2 separate regions of the Homo sapiens genome follow, and region 1 is linked to region 2. The links come from fine-mapping of genetic effects on gene expression. A gene starts in region 2. The other region holds a variant in brackets. All regions are shown on one strand. Distances are from middle to middle.

Region 1 (5,367 bases), 33 kb before region 2:
CAGGGCTTCAAGATCCCACATCCCTGGGCCCCTCCTGTGAGCCTGCTGGAAACACGCTGACACTGGAATCCTCCGACCTGCTGCCGCCTCTCCCCGGTCCCCGCAACCTCCTGGCTCCTCCCCGCTTCGTCTTCATCCTGCCTGAGCTGCCACCGCTCCGATTGCTTTTGGAGTTGACCTAGAGGACTCGGAATTATTGGAGACCCCAGGATCCTCTCCTGAGGAGGAGGGGCGCCCAGTCTCCTCTTCTACCTCCGACCTGGCCCTGTTTCTTTCCCCAGGGCTTCGCCTTGTAAGTGCCTAGGCTAGATCTTCTAAATAAATACGATCTGCACCTCCCACGAGTTTGCATTGTGATTCTTTTGTTTCAACTTCTGTGTGATTAGAGAAATGTACACTTTCCACAGAGTTGCACTCCCAGGCATTTGGGAACCCCCCGTACCCTGCTGTGTGAGTTTGCTAGGGCTGCTCCACAAACCGTGTGGCTTAAGCAACAGGAGTGGATTGTCTCACAGTCTGGAGTCCGGAATCCGCCATCGAGGTGCCTCAGGGCCGGGTCCTCCTGAGGCCTCCCTCCGTGGCTTACTGATGCCGCCATCCCTATATCCTCACGTACTCATCCCTCTGTGTGTGTCTGCGTCCTCATCTCTTTGCATAAGGACACAGATTAGACTAGGGCCCACCCTACTCCATTAGGTCCATGTTTGAACTAATCACCCCTGTAAAGACCTATCTTCAAATAAGGTGCCATTCTGAGATACTGCGTTGAGGACTCCAACATATGAACCAGGGGGCACAACTCAGCCGTGGCATCCACTTGGCTTGGGGCGTCTCCGTCTTTCCCATCTTCCAGGATACAGAATTGGGAGGCCCCTTGGGCTTCTCTCCCCCACAAGTCGCCAAATCCCTCAGCATCTCCTGGAAGGCTTCCTACAGACATCTATTTCCTGCCTCCTTGTGACACCTCCCTACACAGACTTCTGATTCAGGTGCCCACCTGTCCCTTCCCTGCTGCCTCTGTCAGCTGGGGCTGCCAGAACAAAACCCACAGAGTAAGCCTGGAAGACGGAACAACAGACACCATTTCTCCCAGTTCCGGAGGCTGGAGGGCCTAGACCAAAGTCCAGCATGTTCGACTCATGGGGAGGGAAGGCAGGAGCTGGCGGAGGAGGAGGTGGGCTGCAAGGCTGGAGCCCCCAGACCCAGGCGTCTGTAACAGCAGAGCGCTGGAGGCTGCTCGGGAAGCCACCGTCTCACAGGATGGTAGGCAGTGAGTGCCTGGCGGAACTGCGACAAGAAAGTGAAAACTCAACAACACGGAAGTTTCAGAAATTGCTTCTGAGTTTCTGTTTCGGTAGTAAGGTTGACTAGACACTATTCACAACCCTGAAACTTCTAAAAGGACATGGTGAAACCCCGTCTCCACTAAAAATACAAAAATTAGCCAGGCATGGTGGTGGGCGCCTGTATCCCAGCTACTTGGGAGGCTGACGAAAGAGAATTGCTTGAACCCAGGAGGCGGAGGTTGCAGCGAGCCTAGATCGCACCACTGCATTCCAGCCTGGGCGACAGAGCTAGACTCTTTCTCTAAATAAATAAATAAATAAATACATAAGTAAGTAAATAAATAAAGCTTTAAAGTGCTATGTTTAAAGCATATATATTTTTTTTAAGTCACTGAGCTGTTGAAAAACTAAATAATCCTCAGAGCCAACAAGCAAGAGAGAGCTGGACCCACAGAGGAAGGTGAAAGTCAAAAACGGCCTCCACCCCATGGCTGGACCAGAAAGAGGCCCTGTCTGTTTTCTTCCACCTGTGTTATTGGAAAAAAATATTTGACAAGGAAACATACACCAAACCCAGCTCTTTTGTTTAAAAGCCAATTGCAAAAACACAGAACGAGTGACCTGGTTTAATGGTGGCTAAGAACGATAGAAAAAGGGCCTGGTCTATCTGAGTTAAATTTGAGCTCAGGATGAGGCTAGGGTGTGGTGTTGCTGCCGAAATCCACTCTGTGGTCTGAGGGTGGATTCGTAGCCACACGGTGTCCAACTCAGGGGTGAATGAGCCCCTCCCCATCAGCCCATGCTAGTTCCTTTAATGGACTTTTTTTTCAGAGCAGTTTTAGGTTCACAGCAAAATTGAGAGGAGTGGGCCACAACATCCCCCGTGCTCTACAATGAGAGCACTTCCTCAGAGCCCAAGACAGTAGGCCACTCTCTGGGGGTCCCCAGGGGCTCAGGGTGTGGCTGGCCTGTCCCCAGCTCAGGAGAGACCAGGAGTTGTCTAACAGTTCCTTCATTGGAAGTCTCTGTGGATGCCTCCCACGGACCTGAATGTTGAGGGCCCATGATTTCTACAGTACATTGAGGAGCCGGGATGCAGGGCCCCTATTTCCTCTATGTGTGCCCTGGACACCCCAGGCACAGGGGACAGGCCTGGCCCTGCAACCCCACCAGGGTCCTGACACCAGGCTTGGCCTGGCCTTGTGATGAGCAAGAGAAGAGGCAGGTCCAGAGACACCTCCTGCACGGGATCGCCTGCTTCCGACCCCCATGACAGGCAGTGGCCAGCATGGTGTGGAAGGGGCCAGGATGGCACACGGCAGGCTGCCCTGTAGCCCCAGATGGCTCCTGGCCTCAGGAAATTAATATCCACTGGAAAACTCATCACTTGGAGGCTGCCAGAGGGAAGGGTGAGTGTCACGTTCCTGCAGCCATGGCCAGCCAGCAGCATGCCCTGTGGCCTCTGGCCCAACCTGTGGGACAGGGACCCCAGACAGGGCACAAGTCCCAGTCCCAGAGGGTCCTGGCCTGATGCTAACCCAAGCCCTGTCAAGGGAAGGGCATCAGGGGCGCCATGGGCACCCAGCAGCAGCCAGGAGGATCACACAGGGGACTGAGCCTTCTGTGGCAGTGGCCGGACCCAGAACTTAGCCAAAAGCAGGGCAAGCCTCCTGGATCAGAGCGGGTGCTGCTGCCTGTGCATGCCCAGCAAGGCTGAGCCAGTGATGCTACCAGGGTCCATGAGGCAAGGGTGGGGCAGGAGCAGGCTGACCAGCCGCCAACCTCGTCCACTCCAGGAGGCAGGGATGGCCAAGCTCCCACGCCCTCGTGGCCGCCACCTGACCACCGATGGGGCAGAGGCCTGAGGCCAAGCAGTCAGTGCTGGGGCCCTGCTTCCAAGGTCTACAAACTGCTCCAGTCCGGAGGGCCAAAGATAATTGGGCACGTGAGGGCCCAGGAGGTCAGTTCCCTACGTCTGCCATCCTTGGCAGGTGCATTTC[A/G]TGGTCAGAAAAAGTCAAGAAAGGTGACACCTCTCAGGTGTTATTATGAAGGACTCTCCCAAGACACATCTTTTTTTACATTTATTTTTATTGTACATATTCATGGTGGACAACATGGTGCTGTGGTAAACATGTACACTACTGAAATGATGGCTGCAATTAATATCTCCAACACCTTCCATGGTTCCTTTTTGTATGTGTGTGTATAAGTGTGTGTGCATGGGTGTGTTTGGATAAGTGTGTGTATGAGTGTGTATGCATGTGTATGAGTGTGTGTGTTTGTATGATTATGTGTGTATGAGTGTGTGTAAGGTGTGTTTTTAATTGTGTGTGAGACTGTGTGTATGTATGTATGTGTATGAGGGTGAGTGTGTGTGTGTATGTGTGTGTATGAGGGTAAGTATGTGTGTACGATGTTAGTGTGTGTGTATGTGTGTGTGGTAGGAGCACCTGGAGTCTTCTCTCAGCACACCTGCCACACACAACACCTGACTGTCACCTGTAGTCCTTGCACTGTGCACTGGACTGCTCGGCTCCCTCTCCTACACAACCGCAAGCCCTTGACCTCCTCCTCCCCCTTTCCTTCTTCCTCCAGACCCTGGTAACTACTGTTCTATTCTATGTTTCTATGTATTTGACTTTTTCAAAATGTGGAATATATGCATACATCTATACGTGTATATATGGAATATTCTTCAGCTTTCAAAAGAAGGAGATCTGGTTACTTACAACAACATGTACAAATCTGGAGGACATTACACAGGGTGAAAAGAGGCAGACACAGAAAGACAGACATCACACGCTCTCCCTCACACATGGAGTCTACAGGAGTGAAACTCACAGAAGCACAGAGTGCAAGCATGGGAACCAGAGGCAGGGAAAGGGGAAATGAGGAGGTGCTGGCCCAGGGGTCCAAAGCTTCAGTTCTTCAAGATAAATAAGGCTTGGAGACCCAATGCATAGCAAAGTGACCACAGGTAACAACACGGTGTTTATTATGTACTTAAAACGTACTGAGAGGGTAGATCCTACATGTTCTCACCACCAAGAAAAGAGAGAGAGAGAGAGAGAGCTATGTGAAGTGGCAGATGTCTTAATTATCTTGACTGTGGTGATTATTTCACAATGTAGACATATATGAGATCATCGAATTGTATGTCTTAAATATACACAATTAAAAAACAATAAAAGCCACCCCCAGTGCCAGGCCCCACAGGCACCCCCACCCAACCCTCCTACTTGCACATACAATGTATAAAAAATAGATGCGCATACACAATTGGGTATTGCTACCAATTCGGATTTTATTATCCACATTTCTTTGCAACTTAATTCTTTTCACTAGAACTTGTATCATGGTTGCCTCTCCTAGGAAGTAGATCTGGGTATAAGTCTATGTTTCTTTACGCGCATGCGTATTCATATATGTGGAGTTTTTCCACAAGTAGGATCACACATACTGGACTCACTTTTCACTGTCATTTGCTTTTTGTTGATTCCTACACACCTTCCCCACTCCACCCAGCCACTGTCCTACGTACCCCAGGCACACACTCAACATATGTGTAAAAGATATTTTTATTGCTTGCTACTAAAATAGGATCCTACAGGGCTCATTTCTCTGCATCTACATTTCACACTAGCCAGAGCCTTGAGGAAATTTCTCCAAGTCCACTGGTACAGGTGTAATCTTATTTTTTAGTGGGTATGACTTTTAGTATTAATTTTCAATTTGCTAGGATTCTTTTTCTGACACTGTAAATAATAGATCATACACATATATGTATACACGAATATGTTTACGTTTAATCTTTTTTCAGTAATTTCAAGACTAATTGTATTGATATGACCTAATTTTATTAGATATTGTTTTCAAAAAAACTGTAATAAATTGTATCCCCAGAACAATGTATGAGTACCTTTTCCCCCAATTTCACTAGCAATAGGTGTTATTATTCTTGTTAATTTTGGTCAGTCTAGTAGATATAAAATGTTGCAGGTAGCCACTAACTGAGTCCACTAGCGTGGGCAGAAAAGGAATTTACCAAGACAGTTGTAGGTAAGGAAAGGCAGATTTATTA
Region 2 (5,367 bases):
CGCGTCCCCGCCCCAGGCTGCTGGACCCCCGCACGTCCCTCGCCGCGGCCTTGGCGCCTCCCCGGCCCCTCGCAAGGTCCTCCCGAGCCCCAGAGACCCCCGAGGCGGCGTCTACAGGCCCGGGCCGGGACTGACACCGCAGCCCCCTCCCTGGTCGCGCCTCCCACCCCCGTCCACACCTGTGCCGGGAGGCGGTGCGGCCGCCGAGCTGAGCTGAGCCGAGCCGACCTGGTCGGGCACCCAGGCCCCTGAGCCCACCGCCCAGGCCGGCCTCTGCTGGGTGCAAAGGCAACGTGGAACTAAGGCGGGGCTGCAGAAAAACCACCGTCCTCCCCAGGGTGCCACCTCCCTAGTCCGCCAGCCTGGTTAGGGGCAGAACCTAACGCTCTCAGTGCTTATTTGCATGAAAATGGCTACGGGGATTATAACAATCGCCGCCCAGGGCACTCTGCCCCCCAGGGACAGCCCAGGCCCTCCAGGGGAGCCGTATTCCCCTCCAAACCGCCCCCTGGGAGCCTCCAGGAGGGACTAAAGGTCGCTGCCTGCCACCTGCTCCAGCCTGGCCAGTAGCTGCCCAGGGTATAACCAGAGCTCTTAGGGGACAATGGGCACTCCCAGGCCACAGGCAGATGCTGGCCACATCCCAGCTGGGCAGAAGACACGCCCATCGGGCTCACCTAGGCCTGGCAGGGGGAACAAGCCAGGTGAGGCTTCCCCCCAGGCGACAGCCCCTCTATCTAACGGCTAACAGCTCCCATGCCTGCGGGTCCCAGGTCCTTTCAGGCCTGTGACTGCCTCCTCAAGGACCTCCTTCGCCCCCTCCGGGTCTCAGCCTGAATCCTCCTGCCCCCTCCCAGGGCCAAGCCTCCCCCACTTTTCAAACCCAGCAAGGCTGCAGCAGGCAGCCCTACTCACCTGGCCCCGCATCCGGGTCCGGCACCTCCAGTCTCAGGGTCCCCCTCCAGCCAGGGCCTCCCTTCTCGCAGGGCCCTCCCGCTTTGGGGCGCAGCCCCAACCCCAATAACCCCTGGGCTCCCTTCCGGGACAGACCCACTCCCGCCAAGGCGTTTGTTTGTGCTGTGTGCCAGCTCTGCGCCAGGACGCACTCCACCGCCACCCCCACCCCATACGGGCCACTGCCGCTCCCCTCAGGCTGGCCAGGGAAGGGAGCTGCAAGCGCTTATTAATCGCCAACGGTGTACTCAGCTCTGAGGCTGGCAGGAAGACTGAGTATGGAAAGGGGGAGCCCCAAACCCCGCTCAGCATCCCCTGCTGCCCACAGTACTCCCCACCCCCAGCCATCACCATTGGCACCCTGAGCTCCGTGGTCCTGGTGCCCACTGAGGGTTCTGCGGTCGTTGCGCCAGCTTCATTTTCTGTGGCCCTTCATTCAACCAGCGGCCGAAGCCCCCTTCAGAGCCCCAGGGTGACCCTGGGGGGCCCAGGCTGGCTGGGGGCTCGGGGGCAGAAGGCGGATCCCCCCACGCTCCCTCTCCACCCGGCAGCGGGGAGGGGGCCTTTTAGAAATGTCTAGGGTGTCTCGTGACAACCCCCCCCCGCCAAAAAATCATTACTTTCAAAGGCTCCCAGGCTCCTGGGCAGGGGTCTTTGTCCCCTTCCTCCAGGACAGCGAGGCCTCCCCCGCCCTCCCCCTGCAGCGCGAGTCTGACCCCCTTGCTCCCGCCCAACACCTGCCGAAGGTGCAATTACCCGTGCGTTCTTCCTGCCCCGGACTCGCCGCGTCCCCGCCGCACGCGCGGAGGTGTTCCCACAGCGGTCGGCGGGGTGCGGCCCCTCAACAGCCCGCACAGGGGTCGTCGGGGCGGCTTTCCACGGAAGCGGGAGGGCTGGGGGTCGTGGGGGGTCGGCGGCGTCCTGGGGAGCCCGCCCCCGGAGTTCGCGGATGTGTGACCCGAGGCAGCCGGCTCGCCTCTGAGGGTCCCAGGTCCGCCCGAGTGCAGGGGGATCCGGCTCCGTCCTGCGGGGGTCGCGGCGGGGCGAGCACAGCCGCTGCAGGTAAAACGCCGCGCCTGGGTCTGGGGAGGGCTCCCCGGCGGCGGCCCAGCGCCAACAAAGGCCAGGAGAAGGGGGGAGCGGCGCCGGCGCCTGTCCGGGTCGGGGGGAGGACTTCGCGCCCGGAGCCGCTCAGCTGGACCGTCCGGGGTCTGTGCGACGCGGCCGGGGGCCCGGGTGACGGGGGGCCTGGGTGACGCGGGGCCCGGGGCCGGGAGGGCTTCCTGGAGGCGGGGTCCCGGACGCCGCGTGGTCCCTTTAAGAGCCGGTCCCGGGGTGAGGGCGGAAGGCGGCGGCGGCGCGACCCACCCGCACCCTGCACCCCGCCCCCCCCCCGCGGCAGCCGCCTCAGCTTCACCCCGAGCCCGGGCTCCGCTGACGTCACCTGCCCCCGAGCCGCGCGCGCTGATTGGCTGCAGGTGACGTCAGGGGCTTTTTTCGCTCGGCATGACCTCATCCCCGCCGGCGGCCCCGCCCTCCGCCCCGGGCCTGTCACTCGCGGCCGAGCGCGGCGGCCGAGCCGGCTCCCCCCACGACGCCCCGCCGGACGCCGGACGCCCGAGCCCGAGCCCGAGCCCGAGCCCGAGCCGCGCCGGAACCTCCCGGCCGCGCCCGCCGAGCCGCGGGGCTGGGATGCGCGCCGCGAGCGCGCGTGCCCGCCCGCAGTGCGCGCGCCCCGGCCCGAGCGAGCGCTCCCCGCGGCGTTGGCGGCGGCGACGGCGGCGACGGCGACGCGGCCCGCGCGCTCCCCCGGCCCCTGCCCCGGCTGCGCGGGCCCCCGCCGGGCCCATGGACGGCGCGGCCGAGCGGGCGCCCTGAGCGCGGCGCGGGTCCCCGGAGCGCCCCCGAGGCGAGCGCGAGCGAGGTGAGCGGAGGCGCCGGCGGGGCGGGGGCGGGCGCCGGGGATGGGGTTCACCGGCCCGGGCCGGGGGGCGGAGGGCGCCGCGTCGGGGGCGCTGGGGCAGCGGCACCCGGTGGGCGCCCGGGAGGAGGAGGCGGCCCCGGAATGAGCGGCCACGGCCGTCCAGGACGCCAGGGACAGGGAGGCCCCTTCCCCGCCCCCCGCAACGCCCGGCGGACCCGGGCCCAGCCCACGCCCGCCCGCCGCGTTGCCGCCCTTCTCCCCGCAGCTCCTTCTTTGGGTGTGGAATGGGGGGGGGACAAAAATCCAGGACCCACCAGGGCCGCCTGAGATCCAGCGCGGATCTGCGCGAGCCCCCGACGTCCCGAACGTCACCCCCGCGGGGGCCAGAACCGGAGCAGGCGGACCCTGGCCCGGAGTCGGTCCGGGAGGTGTGGAGCCTCGGCCGTGGGAGGGACGCGACGGCCTCTGGCCTGGGACACCCGGGAAGGGGCCTTCCCCTGTCGGGGGGGAGGGCTGCAGATCCATCCCCCCAGTGTCCAGGCCGCACTGCCTCCCCATCCCGGGGTGCCCAGCCGGCCCCTGAGGGATAAAGCCCCCGCGCCCTTCCGCCTGCTGCAGAGGCAGCCGCGGCGCTGGGGGAGGGGCTGGCACAGCCAGGCTGCTGCAGCCACCTCGCTAGGCCCAGCTGCCCAGCCTGGGATGCGGAGCAGACCAGGTGGGGATACCTAATAGTCTGGCCTGGAGGGGAGGGGGCAACAATAGGCCCAGCCCCAACAGGGTCACCCCTTCTGGGAGAATCTGCCTCCGTCTCCCTGCTGCGGGGTGTACCGGCCTCTGCTGAGGGGAATAGGGGCTCTGGTGCTGCAGTGATGGGGGGCGGGGACACTGTGGGATGGAGGAGGGGGTGGCAGGATGTAGCGTGGCTCCGCAGTGCTCTTGCTGTGCAGCTTGGGGTGGGGGTGGGGTGCTGCAGGCCAGGGAAGCTCCTTTTGTGCCCCAGCGGGGGGTCTGAGGGGAGATCCAAACCCCGGCACTCTCCCTTGCCTCCCTTCTGGCACAGCCCACCCAGAGACACTGTTGCACCTAGGGCGGTCCAGGGGTGAATGTAGCACCCCAGGCCCCAGCCCTCCACCAGGAGGACAGTCCCATGCATTCACTGCTAATAAGCACTGGATGCGGATGGCAGATCATGTGACCCCAGCTGGAAGTTCATCCTGAAGTCTCGCTGAAATACCTCCTGCTGCAGCCAGCCGGGGGCTGCACGAGTGTGGCTGGGCAGGTTCTATTCCCCTGGTATCCTCTGTCCTCGGGGAGGCTTCTGGGAATAAAGTCCCATTAACAGAGGTGCAGAAAGACGCTTAGAGTCAGTCTCTGCTCCAGGACCCTTCTCTTCTCAGGCTGGGGCTGAAGTCAGGGCCTAGAGGCTGCCACTGGACAGGTGCCTCGAAGGGGCATCAGCTAGGGCCTGGGGAGACCTAGGTGTCACTTCTTGCAGAAGGCAGGGAAAGGGGCAGACCCACAGTGAGAGAGAGGTGGTTGGACTCTGGCCATGAGAACTGCACCCGCTGAGGCCCCCTCTGCCGGAGTTGCTCAGGGCAGTGAACCTTGGAAGCGCCACACTGGTCCTGATGTTTAGCATGTGGCACAGTGACCAGGAGGAGGGACACAGGTCTGGTGGGAAGGGAGGGAACCTGGATATGTCCGGCTCTGAGACTCGACTGTCACGGCCCCTTGTGCCAAGTCCTCCCATCCCCTGCCCTGCCCGGACCCCGTTCCTGGGATCGGAGGGAGCCCCCCGCCCCACCCCACTTTCTCCCAGGTCCACAGCTTCCCCAGGCCAGCGGAGCAGAGTGTAGGCCAGCTTGGGTCCTACAGCACTAGCCAAGGGAGCTGAGGGGAGGCAGGGATGAGGGCATCTGGGGGAGCCCAGTGAGGGAAGATGAGCTGACCTGTGTGAGTGCAGGGTCCCTGCCTCCCAGAGTTGCCACCCACCAGTCTCTCCTCAGCCTCCTTAGTGTGACGATTTCTGCCTCCAGAAGCATCCCTGGGTAACAGTGAGCCGGACAGCTCCAAGAGCCTGCCTAGGTGTGAGGGGGAGACACAGTCCCATCCCCCCATGCTTGACAGTCCTGGCAGCTGTCTCTGAAGGTAGTGAGTCCCCATTTCTAGGTGCTGAGCAGAAGGTAACATGGTAAGGATGCTGTCAGTTGAGAGCTGGGGGTGGCCTGGGACTCCCTGGTCCCGTCTGTGCTCAGGGACAGGAATGTGCTGCACAGAGACGCTGGGTGTGGGAGCTCGTGTTTGTAAGGAGTCTGAAGCTGACCCCTCGGGTACTGGAGTCCTGGGGTTCTCAGGGGATCCTGCATACAGAGGGCAAGGACGTGCGTGTACTCTAGTGTATGTCCAGCCCACGCGTGTGCACATATTCACGCGTGGGTACTTGCACACAGGGCAGGTGGATTGTGGGTAAGGAGCACCAGCCCTGTGTG

Direction of the effects. Alleles are on the strand shown, and positions count from the first base shown. SD is a standard deviation of normalised expression in the study named.
With allele G in place of A in region 1, the expression in anterior cingulate cortex of the gene that starts at base 2,508 in region 2 is lower (small effect, 0.22 SD a copy in GTEx).

What was found. PIP is the estimated chance that this variant, and not a neighbour inherited with it, causes the effect. A credible set is the group of variants that fine-mapping cannot tell apart.
Region 1: its variant is the best candidate, but not a certain one, in a credible set for the expression of DUSP8 in anterior cingulate cortex (GTEx, PIP 0.83).

What each region holds. Positions count from the first base shown.
Region 1 is chr11:1,602,053-1,607,419 of GRCh38, reverse strand. No RefSeq gene overlaps it. Among named protein-coding and RNA genes, the nearest start is that of KRTAP5-3, 3.7 kb to the left of the region's middle. The variant A/G (reference allele first, on the strand shown) is at 3,287.
Region 2 is chr11:1,569,412-1,574,778 of GRCh38, reverse strand. It overlaps DUSP8 (dual specificity phosphatase 8), which reads left to right and starts at 2,508. Exons shown (of 7, transcript NM_004420.3): 1 at 2,508-2,878. KRTAP5-AS1 (KRTAP5-1/KRTAP5-2 antisense RNA 1) reads right to left here and starts at 2,038. Exons shown (of 2, transcript NR_021489.2): 1 at 1,711-2,038. RefSeq lists enhancers at 1,813-2,358, 2,907-3,454, 4,970-5,367.